2 linked regions of the Homo sapiens genome follow. The protein of the gene in region 2 purifies or fractionates together with the protein of the main gene of each other region. This does not show direct contact. Each region holds a gene or a part of one and is shown on either strand. Other genes may lie near its edges.

Region 1 (3,500 bases), on a different chromosome or scaffold from region 2:
GAGCTGACCAGTCCCCAACACAATGGGAGCACTCTCGCAGTGGCTGTGTCTACGCTAGGTTAAGGAGACAAGCTGGCAGAAATCTAAGGCCCATGTCTTCCTTCATATCCAGATCCTAAATGCCCTGGAGGAAGAAATAAACTGGCTGGATGTTGTGTTATAAATGATGCCGTGTTATAAATGACGTTGTGTTATAAATGGTCCCAAACTTTCACTTTAAAATATGCTATTTACTTTTTTTACAGTTATAAAAATAATACATTATCAAAATAGACAACTTACAAAACACAAAAATCCACCAAGGGAAACACAGCAAAGGCCCCTGATCCCACCATCTAGAAAGAACGAGAGTCTTTCTGGCCCGAAGGCACCAGCTCTGATGAAGGCACAATGAGGAGATGCCAGCACAGACTTCCCCAGACCTGAGGTGACGCTACAAACGAGCGGTGCACAGCCACACACGCAGGTTTAGAGTTCGGGAGGAGGAGACCTAAGTCCTGTCTTCAAAAACAAAAAGCAGGCCGGGAGTGGTGGCTCATGCCTGCAATTCCAGCACTTTGGTAGGTGGACGTGGGTGGATCATTTCAGGCTGGGAGTTCAAGACCAGCCTGGCCAACAAGGCAAAACCCCATCTCTACTAAAAATACAAAAGTTACTTGGGCGTGGTGGGGGGCGCCTATAATCCCAGCTACTAGGGAGGCTGAGGCAGGAGAATCACTTGAATTCAGGAGGCGGAGGTTACAGTGAGCCGAGATCGCGCCAATACACTCCAAACTCGGCGACAGAGTGAGACTCCGTCTTAAAAGAAAAAACAAAACAAAAACAAAGCGAGCCACCGTGGAGATCCACCTGCCGCTGCTCCCGCGGGGGTCACTTCTCTGGCTCCTGCAGCCGGCAGCTTAGGCAGCACAACACAATCCACTAGGACATTCGGGAATGGTTTTAAAACCAAAGTGGATTCATGGCGACCCCTTAATAATCTCCTGGACTGCTTTCGGACATGCTTTCTGGAACAGGAGGGGTGTGGAGAGCCAGCGTGTGGGGACTTCGGTGACCCTGGGGGGGTACACAGGAGGGTGTGTGAACACGTGCCATCACATATGACCACCACTCGCCTCGTGGGGACCCACCGAACCATCCACTCTGCTCATCTGTGCCCACCCCACTGCCTCTGTATGACGCCTCGTAAGGACAGAGACAAAAGAGCTCCTAGGAGAGGGGAGAATGCAGGAGGCTATACGCATGGTTCTCAAAGCTTCTGCAAATATAACGGCGGCCTAACATTTGGTCTTTGGTTCAAAATATTTCCCCCCTTCACCATTTTTTAATGCTGCAAAGCTCATCGCCCCTCTAGGGACAGTGCAAAGGATATGTCTGGGTCCCCTCAGGATCAGGTTGGCCTTTCTTCCTCTCAGCCAGATGCCCAGGTAAACTGGCCACCACAGACTCCCCCGTGCTCCGTGAGGCTTGGCAGGACCTGTGCGGCCTGGGAGGGAGGGCAGGGACTCGCCTGTGCATTCCGGAGGCGGCTGTGCCTGGTGGCAGTGAGGCACAGCCTTAGGGCGGAAGTCCTAGCTCTGCTGCTGGGTGCCCTTAGACCAGGCAATCCCTTCGCGTCTCCCCTCCCTCCTCTGTAAAATGAGAATAACACCCATCTTGTGGGCTCCTGAAGGGATTAAATAACACACGGGAGGCACGTCCCGCACCGCCTGGCACACAATCGGCCTCGACATGCGGCACAGCACCCGTCCAAACCTCCCATGAGCCTCATTCGGGGCCAACCATCTCTCTCATTGCAAATAATAATAATAATAAAAATAACTGCCTTCAGTCCAGGCCTGGTGACTGACCCTATCCAGAGCCAACTCCAACCCAGAACCAGCTAGGCCTGTGCTGCCGGAGAGGCTGTCAAGTCAATGCACGAGGGCTCTGCCAGGGACGGCTTCAGCCCAACAAAGGGCATGTGTGGCGAGGCCCCAAGACGGGCACCAAGGTGACACAGGCAGAAAACCCCAGGGAAGGAAGCCCTCCCACGGCCGAACCGGAACCCTCACCCTCCCAATGAACAACTGCCTTCCCAGCACCGTCTGGCCCTTCACCGCATTTCTAAACACGTCACACACACATCTGTTCCTCGACGTTCGGTCTCTGTTCATCCATCCTCCTCAAAATGAAAGTCCGGAACCTTCTGCACTAATTTTAAAGTCTGGCTGAACATTGAGTAACGAACAAAACTGAAAACACAAAAGAGATGGTATTTTTAATCTTGTGCATTTTTACTGAAAAATGAGAAGATAACTCTATCTCTAGCTATAGCTTTTCCTGTCTATGTGGCCAGCCCATAAATGAGTTCTAACTCCTTTTCTCTGGACTGTCTTCAGTTTTCCTGCACTGCGACTCAAGGATGAGGCGCCTCTACGGACAGTTCCGCGGCGCACGCAGCCCCAGGCCATTGCCGCAGCGGCCCCGGGAGTGCGCTGCCCCGCCTGGGAAAGGCGCAATCAGGTGCTCCTAGCAGGAGGAAACACACAGTGCACGCACCTGTTTAAATTTTCCTCTGATCTTGTCTAAGTCTTCATGGAGTTTATCGTAAGTAGGGTCATCATAAGGGAATTTCTGGATCATTCCAATCAATGATTCTAAGACCTTCATCTTTCTGCTGTAAAGCACAGAAATACAGACTCTCAGTCATGTGCACACAACAGGCTCAACTTACACAACAGCTATGCTGCTGGCTTCCTGAAACCCAGCAGGTGCGCTAAGAATGCCTTCGTTCAAAAGCTGGATGATTATTTTCTCATTACACGAAATCATATTTATTTACCTAGCAACGAGCTTAGGCCCATACCCAGTGCCTCGACAGCAAGTGTGTGCCTAGCTTACAGACACGCCTCCATTCCGACCACGGGGCCAAGGGGCTGAGGCAGCCAGAAGCCCTGCTGACTCTCGAGGTCACACATGCAGAAACAGACAGAACTGGGCAAGAGGGACTGGGGCTGGGCACGAGCAGGCCTGCTCTGGGTCTGGGGATTTTCCAGGATCTGGATTCTTTGTGCTCAAAGCCTTCCAAAGTTCAGCTGCAGGTAAACCAGCAAACCCCTCCCTCCAAAGGCGGAAATCAGTACTGTCCCCTCCCCAGGGAGGAAACAGCTTTGCTGGGGAGGCAAGGAGGTTCTGCAGAAAGGCTGTGCACTCAGGAGACAGCAGCCCTGGGCATGACATCTCCCCAACACCTCTCTACCTGCTTTCAACCCTGCTGGCCTCATCTGTAAAATGGGGGGCATCCCAGCCTCCAGATGGTGAGAAATTAATTTCTGTTTTGTTTTTTTTTTTTTAATGGGGAGAGTAACAGCAACCTCACAGACTTTCAAGAGGATTAAATAACTGACATGGGCCGGGCTCGGTGGCTCACGCCTGTAATCCCAGCACTTTGGGAGGCCGAGGAGGGTGGATCACCTGAGGTCAGGAGTTCGAGACCAGCCTGACCAATATGGTGAAAC
Region 2 (3,500 bases):
TATAACATGTACTCCCTTGAATATTGTTGTATTTAACTTTTCATGGGAGTTTATGTCTTATTTCCACAATGAAATTAAAAGGATCAAAGGCAGAGACTATGTTTAACAATTATGCAGCATAGTTTAGTGGTTAATTACACAACTTCTGGAGCCAAACTACATAGGTTTGACTCTCAGCTCTGTCATCTTTCTGTGTGACCTTGGGCAAGTTACTTAACTTCTCTGTTTCAGTTTCCTCATTGTGTAAAATGGAGTCAATAACAGTATATACCTCAAAGAGTTGTGAGAATTAAATCGTGTAGGACCTGTTCTTGATACATACTATGCACTCTGTAAGTGTTAATTGCTATAAATCCATTAATAAGAAAAATCACCACTTAAGTGGTGATAAGTATCATAAGTGTTAGCTACCTTATGTATGTATGTTACATAAGTGTTAGCTATTATTATTGTTATTTAGAATCTCCATGTTCAGCCGGGCGTGGTGGCTCATGCCTGTAATCCCAGCACTTTCTGAGGCCAAGGCAGGTGGATCACCTGAGGTCAGGAGTTTGAGACCAGCCTGGCCAACATGGTGAAACCCCGTCTCTACTAAAAATAAAAATTAGCCGAGTGTGGTGGCGGGTGGCTGTAATCCCAGCTACTCAGGAGGCTGAGGCAGGAGAACCGCTTGAACCTGGGAGGCGAGGTTGCAGTGAGCCGAGATTGCAACTTCCATTCTAGCCTGGGCAACAAGAGTGAAACTCCATCTCAAAAAAAAAAAAAAGAATCTCCATGTTCATGGTACCCAAAATAATAAGTACATAGAATGTACTCAGTATTTATTTGATGGAGGAAGGAAGAAAAGGTCTTAACATGAGCAGCAGCTTTTTAGGAAAGTGTCCATTTCTGACATTCTGGGGAGGAGTTGAGAAATCTGTCCAGGAATGGCAAGAAATACCTATTTGGGGGTCTACAAAAGCTAATCAATCTCAGGAGGAATTAACAGGAAAATGAAAGGGAAAGACATTCCATAGGCTAGCTGTTTATAAACGTACATATTTCATGTACACCTGCACTACACGGTTCTGTAGTAGCTTTGCGGTTTTAATGGCATGAGAGGCATACCAAGCTTCTTGGTTGAGTTTAGGATAGACAGGTACTTACTGAGCATGCCTCTATAATTGAGGTCCATATCCCGGCTCTCAGATCGCACTTTAATGGCATCCAGGATGGCATCAGGAGACAGCAGTCCTGAAGGCCTCACAACATTCAGAAGCTCTGTGAGGCTCATGAGAGGTAAACGCACAGCCTGCATGATTTCAGCATGATTCTCCTTTGAATTGTGCTTACACCAGTTTAATAAGGCTAGGAAAATATCTTTTTCGGGAGCTGCAAATGAGTCTCTTAACACGATGTTTAAAAGTGCTGTCTGAAAAGGATAAAAAGGTAAAATTCCAGTTATATGAAGTTCAACCACTGCATGACCAATCAGTAAAAGCTTACAGGACAAGTATAACTTAGCCAATTAACTCTTTTTGACCCTCTCCTTCCCTTATGCTTTGTGCCACATATTCTCCTACTCATTATGGCTGTGTAAACAACCAAGACGGTAGCACCATTCTTTTATGTTCAGGTATCTTGTACCACTACATCAAACATTTAATCTTTCCAAACACATCTGCATTCATCTTTTTTAAAACAGCAAAAAGAAAAACGCCAAAGTGAAAAGCTGTCAATACATTCAGATTCTTCAAGAGAGTGTACATTGTTAAGTTAGAAAGACATATTTGGCATTTAAAATTCAAATTTTGTTCCACAGTATTACTTCACTACCATACTTTTGGCTCTCAGATCTCCAAACTGACCTCCAGGAACAATGTTGCAACCCTCAAAGATCATTGTCTTTAAAAATTAAGTAGAAAAAAATGAAATAGGATAACACAGATCTTAATTTACACTCAAATCAAGATATGTAGCTTTTCAATAGATTTTTCTCATTAGAAATATCCAGGTTCTAGAAGGAACACAACAAGGCAAATGGAGAGACAATCACTACCCAGAGTTCAAAGGAAGATTTGAGCAAAACAGTTTTACTCTAGCTATAATACTGAATTTTAAGCCAGCAAAAAAAGCAGGGACTTAAAGACATCAAATGTTGCATCAGATCTCCTCTATGAATTTGCCTGCTTGCTCTAAGGAATTATTAGTCACACTCTCTGTCAGAGAAAAACAAAACCAAAAGGTAGTATGCAATACCAAAAAGGACCCTATTTGATTGTCACTACCTTGAAAACAACCACACAGCAGCACAGTCTCTTTTGCACATAAAACTTACCTGAAGAACCTTAAAAGAAAACACAACCAACCAGCCCCTCTCTTTTATGATCTAGAGTCCTGGTAGCTAGATGCAAGTGGCTAGACCAGATAACCAATGATAACGCTTTGATACCAATGATTTTTTTTATTATTCTTAGTCCATTGCTATACTTCTACAGTATAGGTATAAATAAAACAATGCATGCCTATAAATTACTTGTAGACAAATGACACACCTTAGAAAGGGAGAGGAAACCTTCACTTGAGAGGACTTCCTGAGCATTCCTATCCATAAACATGCAGCACATACAAGTTAACTTGGGAAGTGAGTAGAGACTGGCAACATCAAAAGTCATGCAGACATTCTGAATGTTAAGTATGGTGCAGAGATACTCAGAGGTAGAATCCTCTAGCTCTGGAAATCCATATTTATGAGCCAGGCTCAAAAAGTCCAGCAGCACCTCCTCCTTCTCATCTGTCAGCGTTGCCCGCCCAGTGTAGATATATTTGAGTAGCATTGTGAATGCTTCTGCAGTGGTGTCTTGGAGAGGAATTTCTGCTTCAGGCTGAGACTCTCGCATTCCACCATATAATAATGCTCTGCACATCAGGGAAGAAACACATGAAGAAACCCTCAAATAGGATTTGCTACAAAATATTGGAAATAACAGTTATCAACATTATGCAAATATAAATTTTTTTAATGACACAAAGATCCAAGTGAAAAAATGCAAAGTAATCATTTAAAATGGTTCTTTACAGGACACAAGAGGAATGATTTTAAAACTATTTGAATTAATTCTGTAAGCCACTGAACTAATGAGATACTCTGAAAGCTCAAGATATGTGACAGATATTAAATAGAAAGATGAGAGTGATCTTTTGAGAGGCACAATGAAGTTGATATAAAGATGTTAAAGGTCAATAAGGCAATTTAAAAAGTAAAACTCTATAGGAAAAGATATAATCAGATAAACACTAATATGATGCCATTCTCCCCTGTAAGACTGGCAGAAATTAAAAGGCTTGTTAATATCAGTGCTGCAAAAGCAATGGAAAAACATGTTCTTTGATATGCTGCTTTGAGAGTATAAATGGCAGCCCTTTATGGAAAGTAATTTAGTAGCATCTAGTCAAATCTAAAATGTGCATACCCTTCAACTCAGTAATCTCTCTTTTAGGACTCAATTCTAGGGAAGTAA

The links. The genes of interacting proteins can lie anywhere in the genome.
Region 1: the proteins of BTBD9 (region 2) and LTO1 purify together in Homo sapiens (co-immunoprecipitation; one large-scale study listed by IntAct). This does not show direct contact.

The regions. Positions count from the first base shown.
Region 1 is NC_000011.10:69,665,354-69,668,853, forward strand, and holds the end of LTO1 (protein LTO1 homolog), read right to left. Parts: intron 2,660-3,500; coding exon 2,542-2,659; intron 2,235-2,541; coding exon 2,166-2,234; 3' UTR 210-2,165; downstream 1-209. UniProt on the Homo sapiens protein: The complex LTO1:YAE1 functions as a target specific adapter that probably recruits apo-ABCE1 to the cytosolic iron-sulfur protein assembly (CIA) complex machinery. May be required for biogenesis of the large ribosomal subunit and initiation of translation.
Region 2 is NC_000006.12:38,591,430-38,594,929, forward strand, and holds part of BTBD9 (BTB/POZ domain-containing protein 9), read right to left. Parts: intron 2,947-3,500; exon of another isoform or gene 2,907-2,946; coding exon of another isoform or gene 2,899-2,906; coding exon 2,535-2,898; intron 1,412-2,534; coding exon 1,147-1,411; intron 1-1,146.